Homo sapiens: one gene and its partner. The protein of the gene in region 1 interacts with the protein of each later gene in a pairwise test. Each region holds a gene or a part of one and is shown on either strand. Other genes may lie near its edges. The genes, in order: PGLYRP3 and HSD17B14.

Evidence for each region.
Region 2: the proteins of PGLYRP3 (region 1) and HSD17B14 interact in binary tests that used the Homo sapiens proteins (3 or more experiments, as listed by UniProt).

What each region holds. Positions count from the first base shown.
Region 1 is NC_000001.11:153,302,888-153,306,705, forward strand, and holds part of PGLYRP3 (peptidoglycan recognition protein 3 precursor), read right to left. Parts: intron 2,179-3,818; coding exon 2,060-2,178; intron 1,123-2,059; coding exon 970-1,122; intron 1-969. UniProt on the Homo sapiens protein: Pattern receptor that binds to murein peptidoglycans (PGN) of Gram-positive bacteria. Has bactericidal activity towards Gram-positive bacteria. May kill Gram-positive bacteria by interfering with peptidoglycan biosynthesis.
Region 2 is NC_000019.10:48,826,399-48,830,216, reverse strand, and holds part of HSD17B14 (L-fucose dehydrogenase), read left to right. Parts: intron 1-3,818. UniProt on the Homo sapiens protein: Catalyzes the NAD(+)-dependent oxidation of L-fucose, yielding L-fucono-1,5-lactone, which rapidly converts spontaneously to L-fucone-1,4-lactone. Can also act on D-arabinose and L-galactose, with lower catalytic efficiency. Does not use NADPH.

The DNA of each region.
Region 1 (3,818 bases):
CATGGTCATTGTCTTCAAAAGACCATGCATTGCAAATATATATGCAGGTATGTGCGCTTATGTAACAGGGCTACTACGCGGAAGTCAGTGGACTCTCCGAACTGATCACACATATTTGGAAACAACTTGAAATCTAGAGAGAACTGTACAAATATTAAGAAATTATCATTATTGAAGATAGTGCCTGTCCAAAAGCAAGAAACATTTTATTTGAGATTTACAGTTTTAAAAAGCTAATTCTAAAAATATCATTGATCCCAAGAAAAGGTCCACTAGCAGGAGTGCTTATTAATTTGACTGGTTTTAGGTTGCTGCTTATTCACTTCAAAATAGTGCATTATTTTTATTACTCAGCTTTTTGTTATATGCACTCTGATGTCAGCATCATCTGTGAGCACAAGCTTTTCTCCGAGCTGTGGCTGTGCTGTGGCCATGGCTGGTTTTTGCATTTAGAAAGGTATGTAAGCTTATGTATGTCCTTCGTGTCCCCACATAATAGACACAACTATGTATACATGTTAATCCCACTCCATTCCCACTCTATTTTTCTCCATAGCTTTTATGCCGTCTAACATCATATACATTTCTTTGTTATTTTGTTCATTTTCTGTCTCTTCTCACTGAAGTGCAAGCTTCCTGAAGGTGAAGAGTTTCATCTGTTTTGTTCACAGCTGTATGCTCAGTACTTAGAACAGTGCCTGCTATGCAGTAAATATTTGTTGACTGACTGAAAATCTGTGTACATATGTATTTGTTTTAAGAAGAAGTCTATGGCTATCTCATTCTGATGGGATGGAGAGGAGGCCAGGAAGATGCCCTCTCAGAATTTTCCAGATCTCAAAGTAGGCATGAGATGTTCTTAGTCCCAGAATCCCATGGGGTCTAACAGGAAAAAGCACTCCCAAACATGACTCCAAACATGGCTAGGTGGTGACGAGGAGGAGGGTGAGGTGACATGGAGGGTCTTACCCTTCCTGGGCATCACTGGATGTTGAGGGTCCAGGCAGGTCTCTTCTTTCAGAAGAAGTGGCTGAATATACCTGGGCGACAGGTGACCCTTCTGGATGGCATAGGAGATCAGACCCTCTGCAGCTGATAAGGCAGCAGGGCTGGGACTGCTGCCTTAAAGAGGAGGACAGGGAGCACAAAAATGTCAGTAAGAAACTCCACCTAGACCAGACACCTGCAGAAAGGATGATATGACCACTTGAGCCTGAATAACTGGATTGGAAGAGAGGAAACTGGTCCAGTTGCCAGAACAGAGTGCCTAAGAGGCGAGAAGCTACCTAGATCTCTTAGCAGCCAAGGTTGAAAACTTCTTCCAAGAGCCAAGCTAAGACTTTATCCACTCCATCTCTAGGCAGAAGAGCTGGAAGGCAGTGAAGGATACATGCAAAGGGAGGCCCACCTGACCAAGTCAGGTGTGCACTAGCACAGGAGAAAAGGCAACCAGAATTTACTCATAGCTCCCCTGATCAGGTGTGCAGTAGGCTTTTTATATCTGTTAACTCATAACTCTCACAGAAAACCTCTGAGAGAAATGCTGTTACCTAGCCCCAGCTGTCAAATGAGGATGCTGGCAGGTGCTGGTTCCATATGTATTATTTCTCAGCTCCATCCCTGTTCTGTGCTTTTCTCTATTTTTCTAGGGGCTAGAAGCCTGCAAATTATACCTCCAGATTTCCTTGCCTGCTGCCTTCTGGTCACTTTCTACCAGTGGAACTGGAATAAGAGATGAGCCATGCTTCTCTGCCTCTGGCAGTCACAGCATCTATGTCAGACAACCTCAGACTTTAGAAGTGACAGCAATAACCGTGAGCTCAAGCAACGCCCATGCAAGCTTCAGCAATATCACAGGAGTACAGACCAGTAAAGAGAGGCAGAGGACAAAAAGTATGCATGTCACAGGATCCAAAGGAGAAAAGAATTTCAAGAGAAGGGTGATCATCAGAGAAGGTAAGTATGATGTAGGGTAAAAAGATGAGTGTTGACCCTTGGGAGTGGAGGAAGAGAGTGTACACAACTCTCCAGCACAGGGTCCGCAGGGAGTGACCCTTACCTATCTTATTGCCAAAGAAGGCGATGCCCAGGGAAATGTTGTTGTAGCCCTGGGTGTGCAAGCCTTGGATGTTCCAGCCAACACCTTCATACACCCTGCCATCATCCCCAACCAGGAAGCTGACAAGAAGGAAATAATGATTTTACTGCAAATCTCCATAAATGAAAACCTCTCACTGATCCTCAAAAGGAAAAGGGGTTCTGGAGGCTCATAAGTAAGTACTATGTTCCAATAACAAAACAATAGGAGGTGCAGAATAACCAGTTTTAGACCTCCAAGAGACATGGGAATATATTTTAATTTTTGTTGGGATTTAGCTTGCATGTGTTTTCCAGAACCTCACTTCAAAAATACTCATTTGGTTCAAAGTGGAATTTGACTGCATGACACTCAAGGACCTGAGGACATTAGTTCAATGCTTTTCAAGAGCTTAAAAATTACTACATCATGTTTTTAAATTATAGGACCAAACACTTGAACATTCTCTAAAATAATTATGCCAGATTCAATAGTTCCTTTTGTATTGATGTTTTTCTTCAGATTCTCTTTAGGAATTTCCTTAAGCTCTTCTTTATCATAGAAATTTGTTTAGAATGTTCCTTTTTCACATTTACTTTTTAAATCAATTTTTTATTCTACTTCTTTTATTCCTGCCTCTTTATAATTTCTCTCCTCCACTTTCCAATCAGTCTTCAGAATTGATGTTTTCACAACTTTGCCGTATTCATCTTTTAATAGAACATGAGTTTCCGCAGCAAACTGAACACAGAAAGAACACCTCCCTTAGGTCAAGGAAAGACACTGAACTGAGTCAGGCCGACTTTCCACCCTACACCGATGTCGACATGAGGAATGGGTGTGGAGCCTGGTGTGTCCACCCCTTCCCTGGCTTTGCTGCCAGTACTTTCACAGGTTCCTTGGTCACTCCTGCAGCAGCCTGTGGTTAGTACGGTGTGAACAGTCCCTTACAGCTACTGTCAGCTGCATTGCAAAAACTGGAGATTGTCAAGTTGTCACTGTAGAAACCTGACTTAGAGATGCAGAGGCTGAAATAACTTAGGAATACAGTGACCAAACCAGAAAACACAGCAGCGACAACAGCAGGATGGTGGAGGTGCTGGTGGCAGGGGCAGCAGGTGAGTCGTGGTTGACATGACATGCCCCATGGGCAGACAGGGAAGACCCAGCCATCCCAGGGGTGCTGGGGGCCAAAACCAGGGCCTGCAGCTGCTCTTATTTATTTGTGTTTAAAAATAAATAAATAAATAAATAAGACTTAGATTTTCCTTTCCAAAATGGATAATTCAGAAATTATTTATGTTTGTCTTTAGAGTTCCATGCGGGACAGCCCCATTCCCACTCTCTCTTTCCCTCTCCTTCTACATGTGTCTCCTCATTCTTGAGGCTAAGGGAGAAAAGGTTCTGGGCTTCCACTGATGATCCCCAGAGCAGAAACTCAATGCACAGTGCACAGCTCCTTCATGCCCTCCCTTGTTTCTTGCGGGTCTCTCCTCCCCGCCATTCCCAAAGCCCACTCTCCCCGGTGGGGTCCCCGGACTTGCTGTCAGAGTGGTCTTTCAGGGTAACAAGTGGGACACTGCTTCCCAGGTGCGAGTCCCTGTGAGGTGGGGAGGAGCAAGGGCTACACTGGCAGGTGCTCTCACACAGCTCTGGGTACGTGCTTCCTCTCTCTGAGCAGAGCTTTTAATTCCCCCAAACCATGGCTTTCCCGCCTGTGAAATAAGGGTAGGAATATGGG
Region 2 (3,818 bases), on another chromosome or scaffold:
TGGGAGTCAGCTTGCACAAGTTAAGTCCTTGAAGAAAGGGGGGTTGGGTTAAGGGGCTGCAAGTGAAGGAGCCAGGATGGAGTCTGTCTGGCTCGCTCACCTAAGGGAGAGTCAATTCAGGTTAAAACAAGGTTAGGGTATCACAGCTTGAGCCCAGGAGGCGGAGGTTGCAGTGAGCTGAGATCGTGCAACTGCACTCCAGCCTAGGTGACAGAGTGAGACCTTGTCTCAAAAAAAAAATAATTCATTAATTAATTTTTAAAAAGAGCATGGAGTCCAGGCATGGTGGCTTACGCCTGTAATCCCAGCACTTTGGGAGGCCGAGGCAGGCGGATCACCTGAGGTCGGGAGTTTGAGACCAGCCTGACCAACATGGAGAAACCCCATCTCTATTAAAAATACAAAATTAGCCGGGTGTGGTGGCACATGCCTATAATCCCAGCTACTCAGGAGGCTGAGGCAGGAGAATCACTTGAACCTGGGAGGCAGAGGTTGCAGTGAGCTGAGATCGTGCCATTGCACTCCAGCCTGGGCAATAAGAGCGGAAACTCCGTCTCACAAAAAAAAAAAAAAAAAAAAAAGCCAGGCCTGGTAGCTCATGCCTGTAATCCTGGCACTTTGGGAGGCCAAGGCGGACAGATCACTTGAGGTCAGGAGTCCAACATGGTGAAACCCCATCTCTACTAAAAATACAAAAATTAGCTGTGCGTGGTGGCAGGTGCCTGTAATCCCAGCTACTCAAGAGGCTGAGGCGGTAGAATTGCTTGAACCTGGGAGGTGGAGGTTGCAGTGAGCTGAGATTGTGCCACTACACTCCAGCCTGGGTGACAGAGTGAAACTCTTTCTCAGAAAAAAAAAAAAAATTAGCTGAGTATGGTGGTGCTCCTGTAATCCCAGCTACACGGGAGGCTGAGGTGAGAGGATCACTTCAACCTGGGAGCTGGAGGCTGCAGTGAGCCGTGATTGTGCCACTGCACTCCAGCCTGGGCAACAGAGCGAGTCCTTGTCTTAAACAAGAATTGGGGGAGAGCTGGGGAGGGAATGAGAAAGAAAACAAACTTTTTTATCTGAGAAAGGAGAGCCCCTTTAGATGATCAGGATCAGGCCCAGAGGGGCTTTTTAACAACTTTTTTAAAAATTAATTAATTTATTTTTTGAGACAGAGTCTTACTCTGTCACCCAGGCTGGAGTACAGTGGCACAATCTCGGCTCACTGCAACCTCTGCCTCCCAGGTTTAAGCAATTCTCTGCCTCAGCCTCCCTAGTGGCTGGGATTATAGGCACTCACCACCACGCCTGGCTAATTTTTTTGTATTTTTAGTAGAGACGAGGTTTCACCATGTTGGCCAGGCTGGTCTTGAACTCCTGACCCCGTGATCCACCCACCTCAGCCTCCCAAAGTGCTGGGATTACAGGCATGAGCCACTGTGCCTGGCCTTTTTATTTTTTAATAGAGGTGGGGTTTCACTATGTTGTCCAGGCTGGTCTCAAACTCTTGGGCTCAAGTGATTCTCCTGCCTCAGCCTTTCAAACTCCTGGGATTACAGGTGTGAGCCACCGCACCTGGCTCAGAGGGACTTTATAAAAATGTATTTTAATTACTTTTTGAGACAGGGACTCACTCTGTTGCCCAGGCTGGAGTACCATCATAGCTCACAGCAGCCTCGAACCCCTGGGCTCAAGTGATCCTCTTGTATCAGCCTCCTGAGCAGCTGGGACCACAGGGGTGCACCACTATGACTGACTAATTTTTAACTTTTTTGTAGAGACAGGGTCTTTCTATGCTGCTCAGGCTGGTCTCGAACTCCTTGCCTCAAGCTGGGATTACAGGCATGAGCTACTGCACCCATCCAATAATTACCTTTTGAGGCTACTTGGTTTCTGGACTCTAGACGACCTGATACCAAGTAGCTCTAGAGTGTCACACACTCTATAGTTCAAACATGTATAGCCAATCACTAATCAATGTGATGTCTGTAAACCAATGACAATTCCTGATGAACAACTTTTGTAATCACCGCCTCTCTTGATTCGTCCTTTTTTCTTTAAAAAGTTGAGCCTTTGGCCGGGCGCGGCACCTCATGCCTGTAATCCCAGCACTTTGGGAGGCCGAGGCCGGCGGATCACGAGGTCAGGAGATCGAGACCATCTTGGCTAACGCGGTGAAACCCCGTCTCTACTAAAAATACAAAAAATTAGCTGGGCGCGGTGGCGGGCTCCTGTAGTCCCAGCTACTTGGGAGGCTGAGGCAGGAGAATGGCGTGAACCCGGGAGGCGGAGGTTGCAGTGAGCCGAGATTGCATCACTGCACTCCAGCCTGGGCAATAGAGCGAGACTCCGTCTCAAAAAAAAAAAAAGAAAAAAAAAAGGAAGGAGAAGGGTTGGTCACGGTGGCTCACACCTGTAATCCCAGCACTTTGGGATGCCAAGGCGGGTGGATCACTCATCAGGAGTTCAAGACCAGCCTGTCCAATATGGTGAGACCCCGTCTCTACTAAAAATACACAAAAAATTAGCTGGGCATGGTGGTGAGCACCTGTAATCCCAATTCCTCGTGAGGCTGAGGCAGGAGAATTGCTGGAACCTGGGAGATGGAGGTTGCAGTGAGCTGAGATTGCACCACTGCACTCCAGCCTGGGCAACAGAGCAAGACTCTATCTAAAAAAAAACGAAGGAGAAGAACACACATCAAAGCCTTTCCCTCACCCTTGCTTATGCAACAGCTGCACACAAACATCCACTCTCCATAACATCTTTATTCTCCGCATAGCACTTTTTAATTAATTAACTCAACAAATAGTTATATAGCACCAGCAACATGCGGAGCCCTGCGCATACAGCTATGAACACACAACAGAAGAAAATCCCTGTCCTTGCCAGGCACGGTGGCTCATGTCTTTGTAATCCCAGCACTTTGGGAGGCTAAGGCGGGCAGATCATGAGGTCAGGAGTTCGAGACCAGCCTGGCCAACATGGTGAAACTCCGTCTCTACTAAAAATACAAAAATTAGCCAGGCGTGGTGGTGGGCGCCTGTAATCCCAGCTTCTTATGAGGCTGAGGCAGGACAATCTCATGAACCCAGGAGGCAGAGGTTGAGGTGAGCTGAGATCACACCACTGCACTCCAGCCTGGGCGACAGAGCGAGACTCCATCTCAAAAAAAAAAAAAAAGTGGGGTTTTAGGTTTGTTCTCCCCACCTCCAGCAACTGAGCAACTGACCGGACAGAGCTGCCATTCACTGTGGCAGGAAAGCCTGGCGGGGGCGCTGTTGAACATGAACTGCCTGGTGGACGTCCTGGTGGGAATGGGCATTGGGCATGAGATCGTGGAGGTGGGGCTCTGGAGATACCAGCTTGCAGCTGACCAGTTTGAGGCTGGAGGAACTCAGGGGAGCAAGAGTAGGCAAAGAGGGGAGAGGCCTGGGGGCGGGCCCAGTGTCCAGGGAGCTTCAGGTGCTGACTCTGAGGTCGCATCCAAGATCCAGGTGAAATGTTCCCGGGAGGTTGGGCAATCCCCTGCTTAACCAGTGAACCCTGGCTCCTGTTCCAAATTTGTGTTGACTTTCTAGGATTAACCCAACACTAAAAACACCTCCACACATAAAACACACCTACACCTCAGCCCATGAAGAGTTAATATATGTGTGTGTGTGTGTGTGTGTGTGTGTGTGTGTATATATATATATATTTTCTTCTTTTCTTTTACTTTTTTTTTTTTTTTTTTTGAGACAATCTTGCTCCATCACCCAGGCTGGAGTGCAGTGGCAGGATCTCGGCTCACCACAACCTTGACTACCTGGGCTCAATAAATTCTCCTG